Homo sapiens: one gene and its partner. The protein of the gene in region 1 binds, or shares a complex with, the protein of each later gene. Each region holds a gene or a part of one and is shown on either strand. Other genes may lie near its edges. The genes, in order: CAND2 and CUL1. A codon is read from its position in the direction of its gene.

Region 1 (7,268 bases):
CATTTGGTGCCCCTGTCCTGATGCCAGCTCTTTCTCAAGCTCCAGTCCCACCCGCTGTGACTGCACAGACCACAGTAATGATAGTAGTCATTGCTGTCATTTATTGAGCATCTACTAGTTGTGTTCCTCACAATAACCCTAAAAAAACAGAAATTATTACCCACGTGTTTCAGACAAGGACACATACTGAGAAGAGAGTGGCCTGAGATAACACAACTAGGAATTGGCATAGCTGGGCCTTAGAGCCAGGTCTGTCAGGCTCCCCCACCTCTGCACTGCCACCGTGTACCCTTTTATGAATGGCTTTCAGGAGATAATGTCTTTAACCCAGCAGAGGAAAGCTCTGATGGTGGAATGGCAGGCACTGGCAGGGGAGCAAGATGTCTCAATGGGGGTGGACTTGATAGCTTCTTTCCTCCTATGCCTGTGGTCCTGTCTGTCATTCAGACAGATTTCCAGGGCAGAGATGCCCCTAGGCCTGAAGGCAGGGCATCGATGGAGACGATGGATTTAGAGCCTGATGGGGTACTTGGAACAAGATGGGATGGTAAATGAGATTGGACAGGCATGCGGGGGCCTTGAATGCCAAGCCAGGGAGGTGGGACACTTGTCAGTAATAGAGAGCTAAGGATGTGTGTTCGTGGGTGGCCTACTGTGGGGGTGACAGTGATCCATTAGAGGGGATGGCTGCTGAGCTGCCCGGTGGCCGTGGCCCACTGTGGCTGTCCAGACACCACCCTGTGGGTCCAAGTGGTCCACAGAGTGGTATGGGCAAGGCCATGCTGGGCTCTGAGCCTGTGCCTTGGGGTGCTCCCAGGCAAGACTGTCCCCCTCTGAGCCTCCTGTGTGCCTCCACAGGTGATAGGGCTGGGCCTCGTGGACCTGAATCTCAGCTCTGCTGTTCCTCGCTGTGTGCCCTGAGAGTCTCACCCGCTCTGAGTCTTAGTCTTATCGTCTGTAAAATGGAGCTTGGCAGTACCTTCACTTTTGAGGTGATGGTAAAGACTGCACGAGCCCTTGACTTTCAGGGAGATTGTCAGGTAGAAAGCCACACAAACCCAGCATTTCCTCTTTATTAATCCTGCCTGGAAGCCTTTGGAATCAGGACCCTTGAGAGGCAGAGATCGGGGGAGAGAAGAGGCCAAAGGGAGGCTCTGTCCCTTCTCCCTTCTGGAGTCCCAGTAAACGAAACATCACATAGCCAAACCTGATGCCAAAAGATGAGTTTTGTGCCCCAAATTGATTCTCCAAGTCTACATGAAGACTTGGAAGTCTGTTTTTTCCCTGGTACAGTCCAGACAATTAAGGGTCTGGAGGCAGAGGGGAGGACCCTAGTTTAACTCCAAGTATTTCCTTAACTTGGGGCAAGCCACTTCCTCTATCTAAACCCCAGTTTTCTCATCTCTATAATGGGGAAATAATCCCTGTCTCAAAAGGTCGTCATGAAGCTAAAATAAGATTATGGGTTTGACATGCTTAGCCCCATCCGTAGCACTCAGTAGATGCCCATTAAAAGGTAGGGAATGTTCCCCATAGGGTATCTATAAATGCTGATCATCAAAAAGTGAAGCACAGTGCCCAGCTCTCTCTCCTCCCTGTCCCTTCTCCCCCGAGCCACAGACCTGTCCTGGGAGATGAGGGTTCCACGTGTGTCTTGTTCCTGCCCCAGAGAGTGAAGACGAGTACAGCGATGACGATGACATGAGCTGGAAGGTGCGCCGGGCAGCTGCCAAGTGCATCGCAGCCTTGATCAGCTCGCGGCCTGACCTGCTGCCCGATTTCCACTGCACCCTGGCACCTGTGCTCATCCGCCGCTTCAAAGAACGCGAGGAGAACGTCAAGGCTGACGTCTTCACTGCTTACATCGTGCTGCTGCGGCAAACACAGCCCCCGAAGGGATGGCTGGAGGCCATGGAGGAACCCACCCAGACCGGCAGCAACCTCCATATGCTACGTGGACAGGTGGGCGTGCCTTCACCTCCACCCCTACCCCCGATTTGCCTACCCAGCCACTCACTGTTAGTGTCCCTGGACTTGGAAACTCAGCTGGGAGAACATCCAGCCATGGAAGGGAAGGGAAGGGGTCCCTGGGGTGGGGGGCGGGAGCCAGCCAGGCTTCTGGAGTGTAGTAGTGACAGCCAGCCTGCCTGAGTGAGCTTGAGCAAGTTGCTTGGTCTCTCTGTACCTGTAAAATGGACGCAGAAAATTTGCCTACTCTCCAAGGGTCTGTGTGCGGTCACCAAAAGCCTGGCACAGAGTGAGGGACGAGTGCTTGGGAGATATCTTGATGCCGACATCCTCCCTGGGGATGTGTCTGGCAAAGCCTCCTGGTAGTGGGCAGGTGGGTAGGTTTCTTGGGTGTTCCCTGACCTTGACTTCCCCCTCCTGCCCACAGGTGCCCCTTGTGGTCAAGGCCCTGCAGCGGCAGCTTAAAGATCGGAGCGTCAGAGCCCGCCAGGGATGCTTCAGCCTCCTCACCGAGCTGGCGGGTGTCCTCCCAGGCAGCCTGGCCGAGCATATGCCTGTGCTGGTATCAGGTAGGCTGGACTGCAACCAGGTATCTGCTGTTCTGGGCCACTTCCAGAACCCAGACCCCACCCCTGAGTTGAGCCCCCAGTTCCTGAGACAGTCTGAGACCCAATCCCAGGCTCAGTCCCTGGTCAAGAGTCTCCAGTGGCCTCCCACTACCAGCAGTGAGAACAAGGCTGGCTCCAGTGAGTTCCCTGGACATGTTTCCCTCAGCCCTGGCCACTGGTCAGGGCTGACTTCTTGGAAACTTCTGCAGAAGAGTTTAGGTGCTTCAGTCCAGCTCAGGCACTTGTAGGTACCCCAGCCTTGCTTCCAGGGAGGGCCGTGTTGCATCAGAGGCGGTGGCCTCATAACCTTTGCATTCACCCTGCAGGCATCATCTTCTCGCTGGCCGACCGCTCCAGCTCCTCCACCATCCGGATGGATGCCCTGGCCTTCTTGCAGGGGCTGCTGGGCACCGAACCAGCTGAGGCCTTCCACCCACACTTGCCTATCCTCCTGCCACCTGTGATGGCCTGTGTGGCTGACTCTTTCTACAAGATTGCAGCCGAGGCCCTGGTGGTGCTGCAGGAGCTGGTGCGGGCCCTGTGGCCGCTGCACAGGCCTCGGATGCTGGATCCTGAGCCATATGTTGGAGAGATGTCTGCTGTCACCCTGGCGCGACTTCGTGCCACTGACCTGGACCAGGAGGTGAAGGAGCGGGCCATTTCCTGCATGGGCCACCTTGTAGGCCACCTGGGTGACCGGCTTGGGGATGACCTGGAGCCCACGTTACTGCTCCTCCTGGACCGCCTGCGGAATGAGATCACCCGGCTGCCCGCCATCAAGGCGCTTACGCTGGTGGCCGTATCCCCACTACAGCTTGACCTACAGCCCATCCTGGCCGAGGCACTGCACATTCTGGCCTCATTCCTGCGGAAGAACCAGCGGGCTTTGCGACTGGCCACACTGGCAGCCCTGGACGCCCTGGCCCAGAGCCAGGGCCTCAGCCTCCCACCGTCTGCCGTGCAGGCCGTGCTGGCTGAGCTGCCTGCCCTGGTCAACGAGAGCGACATGCATGTGGCCCAGCTGGCTGTGGACTTCCTTGCCACAGTGACCCAGGCCCAGCCAGCCTCTTTGGTGGAGGTCAGTGGCCCTGTGCTCTCAGAGCTGCTGCGGCTGCTGCGTTCGCCCCTGTTGCCAGCCGGGGTTCTGGCAGCTGCTGAAGGCTTCCTGCAGGCCCTGGTAGGGACCCGTCCCCCGTGTGTGGACTATGCCAAACTCATCAGCCTGCTCACTGCGCCTGTTTATGAGCAGGCTGTGGATGGTGGGCCTGGCCTGCACAAGCAGGTGTTCCACTCATTGGCCCGGTGTGTGGCAGCCCTCTCAGCTGCCTGTCCCCAAGAGGCGGCAAGCACAGCCAGTCGCCTGGTCTGCGATGCCAGGTCGCCCCACTCCAGCACGGGGGTCAAGGTCCTGGCATTCTTGTCGCTGGCTGAGGTGGGTCAGGTGGCTGGGCCAGGCCACCAGCGGGAGCTGAAGGCGGTGCTCCTGGAAGCTTTGGGGTCACCCAGTGAGGATGTGAGGGCTGCAGCCTCGTATGCACTGGGCCGTGTGGGTGCTGGCAGCCTGCCCGACTTCCTGCCCTTCCTGCTGGAGCAGATCGAGGCTGAGCCCCGACGACAGTACCTGCTGCTGCACTCACTCAGGGAGGCCCTGGGGGCCGCCCAGCCTGACAGCCTGAAGCCCTACGCCGAGGACATCTGGGCCTTGCTGTTCCAGCGCTGCGAGGGTGCTGAGGAGGGCACCCGGGGGGTGGTGGCCGAGTGCATTGGGAAGCTGGTCCTTGTGAACCCTTCGTTCCTTCTGCCCCGCTTGCGGAAGCAGCTTGCTGCAGGTAGGCACACAGGTGTGGGCAAGGCAGCCCACCTCGGAGGTGGGCAGTTTGCCACTGAGCATCCAGGCAGCTGGGGCAGAGTGAGCTATTTCAAGTCACTGGATACAAGAATCACGGTATCTATACGACAGAGGCAAGGAAGCTACAGAGGAACACACAGTGATACCTGAGACTTAAAGCCTTCCTCCTATGGGACTGTGGGATAGAAGGGACAGAGTCCTTGATTGGTCCCTACAACAAATACATTTAAAAATCTCATGATGTTGGCTAGGCATGGTGGCACATGTCTGTAATCCCAGCACTTTGGGGAGGCTGAGGTGGGTGGATCACTTGAGCCTAGGAGTTTGAGACCAGCCTGGGCAACATGGTGAGACCCTGCCTCTACCAAAAAAAAAAACAAAACAAAAAACCTCATGATGCCAACTTCATAATCCTTGATGTGGACAGTAGCTTAGTGCTCCACACAGAGGTCAACAAAAACAGTTTTCCCAGTAGCCGTAGACTGCAGCCTGCAGAGGGTCAGCTCTTTCGGCTAGCCTGAGCCAAGAGCAGACGTCAGTATAGACGGGGACAGGCTGACATGCCCCCGAGGCTTGGAGAGGGCTGGGCAAGAACCAGGAGGGGCAGGCGTTTTGGCTTGTCGTGTTTTGGCACACCAGGTGTCTTAGCTTCAGGAGGTGGAAAGCAGACAGGTAGGGTCATCAGGCTCCTAGGAAAATGAGAGTTCCCAGAATGAAAGGCCAGTGGGCTTCGAGCTGGCCAGCTGGCCCCTTACAGAACCAGTGGATGCTCTGCTTGACAGAATGCAGGTACAGTGTTTGGTAACCTATGTGGTACCTACAGTAATTAATACTGAGTAAATCAAGAGCTGCTGTTGTTACTAGGTAGGTTAGTGATTTCAGTTAAGGCCTTCTTGGGTTGCTGGGTTCGTAAGAAGCAGTTGTCTGGCCTCAGGACTGGATGGAAGAACATTGTTGAGGACACTGTCTATTACATCACACAACCTTGAGAGACGAGAGTGTTAAGATGCAGAGGAGCCCTGCTTTGCCTAAACACCTATTTGTTTCTATCTCACGTGCACTGTTGAACCAGCCACCCGGTCACATTTCCTTTTTAGCACCAACTGCTGGGAAGCTTAGAGCCAGATGAGTGGTCTGCTTCTAGTAGGTTCCTGGGACTTCCTTATTGATGCTCTCTGTACATCTTCCTGCTAGTCTCCTTCTCACCTCCCTGCCTTCAGTCGTCCTTGGCCTTGTTCTTGTTTTCAGTTCACTTAATCTTACTCTCTTGTGCCTGTCTTCATCAGCCACCCTAAATCTTCCTGGGAGCCAGTCAGGCTGGCAAGGGAAAGAGGTAAAAGCTGAAAGTCTGAATTCAGTAACTCTTCCATTCATTCATGCCTTAGCACCAAATGGTAAACTTTTCCTCGAGGCTGAACATAAAGCCTGTGGGGTGGAAACACCTTAGCCCATTCACTGCATTGTGCTGGGGTTGGGCAGGGAGCAAAGGGGGCGAGCCACTGAGGAGAGATTCAGACGCAGGTGGAGCGTCCACCCATTCGTTTCCTTCATTAAGGGAATGTACTTCCCCTCTTTACTGGGCTTCTCTACTCAGAAAGCAAGCGGCAAAGCACAAGTAAGCAAGCTCTCTGTGACCGAGCCTGGAGGTGATCCGAGTTCTGTTAGGCCTCCCTGACCACCAGCCAGAACGCAGCCCCAGGAAGAGGGGCCCAGCCAGGAATTCTGGATCTGCTGTGTGGCCCTAGACATGAACTTAAACCCTCTGAGTCTCTCTTTCCTCATATGTCAAAGAGATGATTTTTATTGGTGATTTTATTGGTTCTTTTAATACTACTTTATTATTAATAGGATCATTGTTAGGACTCATTGAGATAACATGTCTGAAAAATCCCAAGGCCTGAGGGAAGGTCTTTGTTGGAGCAGTTCCTGTCTTGGTTATTGGTTCCCTGTTTGCAGCCTGTGGTGTTACCTGAGCACTGGCAGTCCTACTGTTTCAGCTGCAGCAGGAAGAATTGAGGGGAGATTCAAGGCTGCCAAGGGAAATGGTAGAATCCACTTTCCCAGAGATGGGGAGGGGGTACAGTTCTGTTTTCCAGGGAAGCAGGGGGAGGAGCCTAAGCACCTTCTGATCTGTGAGCCTCCAGGATTGGCCCCTGCCCCTCACTAACTCACCTCTTCTTGTCCTGCAGGTCGGCCACACACCCGGAGCACCGTCATCACAGCGGTCAAGTTCCTTATCTCGGACCAGCCCCATCCCATTGACCCCCTCCTGAAGAGCTTCATCGGTGAGCACCTACCTCTTGCCCCTCCACCTTGTTCAGTGCCCCCACCCAGTCCTTGAGCTTGGGCTGATGTTTACTACCCAATAGCCAAGGGCAATGGGAGACCCGGGAGGTGTGCCCATGATGGGCAGCAGGGCCTGGCCCTCCAGTTAAAAGGCCTGGGTTCACATCCCTGCCTTCCTACTGCCACTCAATCATGGGTGGGTGTGGCATGCCCATCACACCTCTAAGCCTCGCTTTCCTCATCTGTCAAATGGGCGTGAGAAACTCTTATTATCTGCATTTTCTAGAGTTGTCCTGGAAGCCCATGGGCAACTGAGGGAGAAGATGCTTCATCAACATATAGACTCTTGGGAATGGAAAACCACCAGCCTCTCACATGCCTTAGCTTTTGCGGGCCCCAAAGTGGGGCAGGGAAGAGTGCTCCCCCCGGCCCCGCCTGTCCACTAGATCGCCCTCTGTCTGAGGGGCCTTCTGGCCTGAGGAGCCCAAGCAGCCTTCACTGGGAGGAGAGGAACTGAGACCTCCCTCTGGGGCTCGGCAGGACCACTGGGTTTTTCC
Region 2 (7,268 bases), on another chromosome or scaffold:
GAAGATGCCTACACTGTGCAGCAGCTGACCGACAGCACTCAAATTAAAATGGTATTCTCATCTCAGGCTCGTTGTTCTATCAGCTTGCCGTTTCCTTGTTCTCGTGGATATTGTTAGGAAAGATAAGGAAGAGGATATGGGCATCTTTAATTTGAAATAGATGTTTGCCTCATGAATATGAATATGGCCTTATTCCAGGATTTTAATACGCACTACAAAAAGCTTCATGTTAAAACTCATTGTTGAGCCAGGCATGGTGGCACATGCCTGTAGTCCCAGCTTCTTGGGAGGCTGGGGCGGGAGGATCACTTGAGCCTGGGAGGTCGAGGCTGCAGTGAGCTATGATCGTGCCACTGTACTCCAGCGTGGGTGACAGAGACCCTGTCTCTTAAAAATAAAACTACGTGTAACACACACACACATACTCCTCATCCATGCTTTTCTCTCATTCATTTAACCAGTTAGGCTTTTCTTACTAAGCTTAAATTTCCACTTTAGTATTATTTTTCCTGCTAGCCATATTTTTTATTGAGATATATTTTAGATAATAAAATTTGACATAACATAAAAGTCATTTTAAAGTGTACAAAGTGGTTTTTAGTATATTCACAAGCTTATAGAACTACCACCATTATCCAATTCCAGAGTGTTTTATCACCCCAAAAAGAAACCTGCACCCATTAGCAGTAACTGCCCGCTAGCTCCCAGCCCCTGACAACCATTAATTTGCTATCAATTTGCCTACTCCAGACATTTCATATAAATGGAATCATATAACACATGACTTTCTGTGCCTGCCTTCTTTCCCTCAGTGTATACTGTTTGCAAGGTTTGCCCATGTTCTAGCATGTGTTGGTACTTCATTTCTTTTTGTGGTCGAATAATCCAATGTATAGATGGACCACATTTTATTTGTTCATCAGTTGATGTACATTTAAGTTGTTTCCAATTATGAACAATGCTGCTGTGAATACATGTTTTCAATTTTCCTGGGTATATACCTAGGTATAGAATTGCTGAGTCATGTAATAGCTGAATTTTTTGAGGCACTGCCAGACTGTTCCATAGTGGCTGTGCCATTTCATATTCTCACCAACAGTGTATGAAACTTTCAGTTTCTCCATATCCTCACCAACATTTGTTATTTTCATTTTTAAAAAAAATTATAGCCATCCCAGTGGATGTGAAGTAGTATCTTGCAGTTTTTGACTTGCATTTCTCTAACAACTAATGATGTGTAGAATCTTTTTTGTGTTTATTGCCATTTGTATATCTTCTTTGGAGAAATGTTTGATCAAATTCTTTGCCCATTTTTCAGTTGGGTTATTTGTCTTTTTGTTGTTGAGTCGTAAGAATTCTTTTAATATTCTGTATACTAGATCCTTATCAAATATGTAATTTACAAATGTTTTTTCCCATTCTGTGGGTTGTCTTCTTACTTTCTTATATACACACATTTTTAATTTTGATGAAGCCTATTTTATCTATTTTTTCTTTATATTGTTTGTGGTTTTGGTGTCATTTTTAAGGAATCATTGCCTAGTCTGAGGCCAAGGACTATTCTCTCCCTATTGTTTGGTGCTGGCAAACTTGTCAAAAGTCAGTTGGCCATAGGTATATATGGGTTTATTTCTGGATTCTCAATTATTTTCCAGTGATCTGTATATCTTTACTATGCCAGTATCACACTGTCTGGATTACTGTTGTTTTGCAGTAAATCTTGAAATCGAGACCCCTAACTTCGTTTTATTTTCCCCCAAGATTATATTGGCTATTCTGGATCCCTTATGTTACCTTATGAATTTCAAGATCAGCTTGTCCATTTCTACAAAAAGTGCAGTTGAGATTTTGATAAGGATTGCACTGAATCTATAGATTGCTTTGGGGAGTATTGCCATCTCAGCAGTATTTTAAGTCTCCCACTCCATGAACATGGGATGTCTTTTCATCTATTTAGGTTGTCTTTTCTTTCAACTGTGTCTCATGGTTTTCAGTGTATGCATCTTCTACTACTTTCAATTTATTCCTAGTTTATTCTTTTTGATGCTATTATAAATGGAATTGGTTTTTAGTTTTTTAATTGAGACGGAGTCTTGCTCTGTCTCCTAGGCTGGAGTGCAGTGGTGCAATCTTGGCTCACTGCAACCTCCGCCTCCTGGGTTCCAGCAATTCTCCCACCTCAGCCTCCCAAGTAGCTGGGATTACAGGCGTGCGCCACCATGCCTGGCTAATTTTTTGTATTTTTAGTACAGACAGGGTTTCACCATGTTGACCAGGCTGGTCTTGAACTCCTGACCTCAAGTGATCTGCCTGCCTCGGCCTCCCAAAGTGCTGGGATTATAGGCGTGAGCCACCGTGCCTGGCAGAGTTGTTTTCTTAATTTCACTTTTTTCTGTTTTTTTGAGACAGGGTCTCTTGCTCAGGCTGGAGTGCAATGGTGCAGTCATAGCTCACTGCGGTATCAAATGATCCTCTCTCCTCAGCCTCCTGAGTAGCTGGCACTACAGGCGCTTGCCACCATGCTCAGCTAATTTTTGTATTTTTTGTAGAGATGGTGTTTCACTGTGTTGCCCAGATTGGTCTTGAACTCCTGGGCTCAAGTGACACTTTCACCTTGGCCTCCCAAAGTGCTGGGATTACACAGGCATGAGCCACCATGCCAGCCTGTTCCACTTTCTGATTGCTCGTTGCTAATGTATAGAAGTACAACTAAGTACCGCAGGGTGTGGTGGCTCACGCCTGTAATCCCAGCACTTTGGGAGCCCGAGGCGGGCGGATCACGAGGTCAGGAGATCGAGACCATCCTGGCTAACATGGTGAAACCCAGTCTCTACTAAAAATACAAAAACAAAATTAGCCGGGCGTGGTGGCAGGTGCCTGTAGTCCCAGCTACTCGGGAGGCTGAGGCGAGAGAATGGTGTGAACCCAGGAGGCGCAGCTTGCAGTGAGCCCTGATTGCGCCACTGCACTCCAGCCTGGGCGACAGAGCAAGACTCTGTCTCAAAAAAAAAAAAAAAAAAAGGTACAACTAATTATTGTATTTTGATTCTGTTTCCTATAACATTGCTAAATGTTTATTAGCTCTAATTTATTAGCTCAAATAGTTTTTGGGGGGATTCCTTAGAGTTTTTTGATATACTGTCATATCATCTATAAATACAGGCAGTTTTGCTTCTTCCTTTTCTTATTTGGCTGCCTTTTATTTCTTTTTTGTTTGTCTTTGTTTTTGCCTGATTCTTCTGGCTAGAATTTGTGGCAAGAACAAGCATCCTTGTCTTGTTACTGCCCTTATTGGGAAAGCTTCCAGTCTTTTACTGTTTAACTGTGATGTTAAAGAGTGATGGTGTTAGCTGTGAGCTTTTACTAGATGTCCTTTATCAGACTAAAGAGGTTCCCTTTTATTCTTAGTTTATTGAATTTTGTATCATGCAAGAGTGTTGTATTTTGTCAAAATGCTTTTTCTACTCTGTCAAAATAACTGCTTTTTTGTCTGTTAATATGGTGTATTGCACTGATGTTGAACCACCCTGGTGTTCTTAGGGTGAGTCCCACTTGGTCATGGTATATAATCCTTTTTCTATGTTGTTGGGTTTAGCTTGCCGGTATTTTCTCGAGTTTTGCATTTATATTCATAAGGGATATTGCTCCATTGTTTTCTCAAGATGTTCGTTTGGTTTTCGTGTCTGGCTAATCCTGGCCTTATGGACTGAGTTAGGAAAGTCATTTTGAATGACTATTTTGTAATCATTCTTCGAATTACTCCTAAATATATCTTCAGATTCTAATAACAAAATGAGTTTGTGCCTTTGTAGGTTGGAGGCCTGGTTGCCCCCTAGACTGTGGGGAGGGCTGTGCAGACGGGTCCTGAGGACAGGGCTGACAGGTGTGGACTGTCAGGTCTTTGCTTGGCTGCTTCTGATCAGGATTTTAGGCCAGTCTCCTGAGTGGTTCTCAGTGTTAGAACTCCCTCAGGAGGCTGCCGCTGCTCTCTCCTTTCTGCCCACAGTAGATGCTGTCCAATCAGACCTGGCTCAGGAAGTGGGCACCCCCGCACCCTGCTCTAGATGCAGTGGGCAGTATTCGAATGGCTGCTGGCAGTTCTGGGTCAGTTACTAGACTAGAGAGAGGCCTCTCGCTTTGACAGCTTTCACCACGTATCCTCAGACCAGAATGGGTACCCATTATGACGACAGGACTCCACTGCCCGTGGGTTGTAAGAGTCCGTGTGACTCTGTGAGTGCCCTCAGGCTGGTCCCTTGGATTTCATGGGATCATAAAGCTGTGAGGCTGAAGGAGGGCTGGGAAGCGTTTACCACACCCACCATTCACAGATGAGAGGCCACACAACGTGCTTGAGTGCATCAAAGGCAAGTTGACAAGGTCGCCTGCCGCTGAGCCCCACTGTTCTCATGAGCAGGACATTATTTTCAGTCTTGCTGGGCAGCTCTTTAATATTTCTTTTGTGATGATCAGTGTCCAAGATGAGCTGTCAGGCACTTAAGAAGTGAAGAGTTCCTGAAGATTTCATTGTGCATGGTTTCCAATACAGGTTCAACATCCCTAATCCAAAAATCCAGATTCCAGAATGCTCCACAATCCAAACATTTTTGAGCACCAACATGATGCTCAAAAAAAAAAAAAAAAAATGCTCATGGCGCAGTTGAAATTTCGGATTTTCCAATCAGGGCTGCTGAATCTGTAAATCCAGTGCAGTATTCCGAAATCCAAACACTTCTAGTCCCAGGCATTTCAGATAAGGGTTACTCAACCTGATTTAAGTATAACAGAATTGTTCATTTCTATTATTGTGTGATCAAGGCCAGAAAGGGGTTGATTTCACTTCTAGAAGTCAGGGTGGAAGGAAGCAGTAAATTTAGTGAACTTCTAAGAAGTACCAACTTTTTTTTCCTTCCAGCATACTCTTCTTTTGGGTGATTTTTTTTTTTTTTTTTAATGGAAAATGGACTGTGAGGTTGCCTGTGGTGGTTATTGCAAAGAAAAATGCATTTTCCCTTTAACTTCCTCTTTTTCTCTTTAATTGCAGGACATTTTGGCGCAAGTTTTACAGATTTTATTAAAGTCGAAGCTATTGGTAGGTTTGCGCCCTTTTATCTTACACTAGAAGAAGCCTTTTCCTGAGATTGTAGAGTAACAATTGTTTTCTTACAGGTCTTGGAAGATGAAAATGCAAATGTTGATGAGGTGGAATTGAAGCCAGATACCTTAATAAAATTATATCTTGGTTATAAAAAGTAAGAAAAATCTAATAAGTAGATGGCCCTTGACCATAGACACGTCCCCCGGGAGCCCTAGCACGGATCTCAGTATTGTTACAAACCAAGGGAGACCGGGGACTCAGTGTGAAGCGACAGGCACTAGGCTGGGAGTGTGAGGTAGGCCTTTGATTCCATTCAGCGAGCCTGATGTTTCTCCAATTCTGAGCTTCTGGGATTTTTATTATTTTGGCAAATAAGTCTCCTTAAATGGCTCACCAAGAAAGTTTGGACCTTTGTGTCCAAGTGGCTTGATTTTATCTCACTTGACAAAATTTGGGAGAGCAGATTAGGGACCTGGATTTTCTGTAATGTGGATGTCCCTGTTAATGGCCGAGTAGGAAACTAGGCCATGATCGGACTCTACCCAGTGCTGGGTAGAGGACATTTTCACGGAGAGCTCACAGAAATCAACATTCTCCCCTCTGTCTAGGGAAGCAGGGCACTTCTTAAAGGTTGAAAAATAGAAAGCAGCCTTCACTGCCTACCTTTTAATATAATAGTGATCGGTTTCCTCATTTTTCTTGATAGTAAGAAATTAAGGGTTAACATCAATGTGCCAATGAAAACCGAACAGAAGCAGGAACAAGAAACCACACACAAAAACATCGAGGAAGACCGCAAACTACTGATTCAGGTGACTTATCTGTATGCCTGTGCCAGGTGTGCTGTCCCTCACGCAGGGATGGCTCGCAAGGACGGGCCGTGGGGGGTAGGCGGGGGTGACAAAGGAGTGATTGCCAGATGAATGGGTCTGTGATGGCAGAAGGTGGCAAGGCCGAGAGCCAGGGCCTTGTTATCTGAATTAGTCCTTTATGTCACCAGGCAAAACAGGGCAGTCCTCTTGCTCTAAATGTTGGAAAGCAAACATTGTGGCAGGTTTGGCTGAAATGAGGGGGAAGGAGAGTTCTTCAGTGGGGAGGATGGGCAGCTTCCGTGGCCTTGAAGATTTAATTTTGTCTCCTTTTTTTTAATGCTTTATGGTTGAGTTAAATTATTGAGGTAAAATTGCTCAAAAGACCCAAACATTGTAATGTTTGCCACGTTAGAGTTGAAACATAGGCAGGTAGAATTGGTTCCCTCTCCCGTCTCACCTGCAGGATGTTTGTTGCCTGTTAGGAAATTGTGATCCTGTGCATAGGCGTCGGCAGCCTCTGTGCAGCTTGTCCTTAACTATCAATACAACGTTGTTACAGCTCTAAATGCACTTCTTTTTCCTTATCTTGTTGCATAGGCGGCCATCGTGAGAATCATGAAGATGAGGAAGGTTCTGAAACACCAGCAGTTACTTGGCGAGGTCCTCACTCAGCTGTCCTCCAGGTTCAAACCTCGAGTCCCTGTGATCAAGGTACAGGACTTTACATAGCAGTCACATTCCTTTCTTAATTTAGAAGATAAAAGATGTAGCAAAAAGTGGATTGATTGCTGTAGCATGAAGGAGGAGGGAGCTGGCTTCTTTGTATGTAGATTTCTATAAAAGAAAGTCGGCTTCAGTTTAACTGTTGAAACACACATACAAAGTGCACAGATGATGAAGTGCCAGCTTGATGACTTTCACAGTCAATACACTGTGTGATCAGCACCCAGGTAAGAATTGAAACATGCCCGGCATCCCGGAAGCCCACCCACCCCAGCCAGCACCTGTGTCCCATAGAAAATCACTGTCGTGTCTTCTGACACCATAAAACAGTTTTGCCTGCTTTTGCGTGATACATAAACAGATTCTAGAGCACACACTCCCGTGCCTGGTAAGAATTTCCTCAGCAGTATCTTCGGGAGGTTCGTCGCATTGCGGTATCGAGAAGCACTGGGTCGTTTTTGTTGCTTTTATGGGTGTTGTGTTATGGGAACACACCTTCCTTTATGTAGCCTACTGATAATTGACATTTTGCTTATTTCTGATTGGGTTTGTTTAAAATGGTAACTAAGCAGGACTTTCCTTTTCCTAAACCACTTGGGTAAGTCACAGCCAGTGGAGAGACTCAGGGGTGGCAT

The links.
Region 2: the proteins of CAND2 (region 1) and CUL1 are in contact, whole or in part, in a cryo-EM structure (PDB 8VVY), measured with the Homo sapiens proteins. Residues at the interface, in NP_001155971.1 of Homo sapiens: Asp21, Phe22, Phe24, Met25, Asn61, Gly62, Glu63, Gln65, Asn66, Leu67, Glu100, Gln101, Asp104, Asp156, Asp160, Leu189, Ala190, Lys193, Arg194, Glu276, Gln280, Asp343 (codon at 1,690), Asp344 (codon at 1,693), Trp349 (codon at 1,708), Lys350 (codon at 1,711), Arg353 (codon at 1,720), Glu389 (codon at 1,828), Ser492 (codon at 2,935), Ser493 (codon at 2,938), Thr494 (codon at 2,941); in NP_001357589.1 of Homo sapiens: Val31, Thr33, Arg34, Gln35, Met37, Lys39, Tyr42, Met111, Asp112, Trp123, Arg127, Phe128, Val132, Asn181, Leu184, Glu188, Gly193, Glu194, Thr195, Asn197, Thr198, Arg199, Ser202, Gln206, Val209, Glu210, Gly212, Leu213, Asn214, Lys221.

Annotation. Positions count from the first base shown.
Region 1 is NC_000003.12:12,813,472-12,820,739, forward strand, and holds part of CAND2 (cullin-associated NEDD8-dissociated protein 2), read left to right. Parts: intron 1-1,669; coding exon 1,670-1,962; intron 1,963-2,395; coding exon 2,396-2,537; intron 2,538-2,902; coding exon 2,903-4,405; intron 4,406-6,614; coding exon 6,615-6,710; intron 6,711-7,268.
Region 2 is NC_000007.14:148,792,768-148,800,035, forward strand, and holds part of CUL1 (cullin-1), read left to right. Parts: coding exon 1-51; intron 52-5,044; coding exon 5,045-5,092; intron 5,093-5,169; coding exon 5,170-5,252; intron 5,253-5,804; coding exon 5,805-5,910; intron 5,911-6,507; coding exon 6,508-6,621; intron 6,622-7,268. UniProt on the Homo sapiens protein: Core component of multiple cullin-RING-based SCF (SKP1-CUL1-F-box protein) E3 ubiquitin-protein ligase complexes, which mediate the ubiquitination of proteins involved in cell cycle progression, signal transduction and transcription.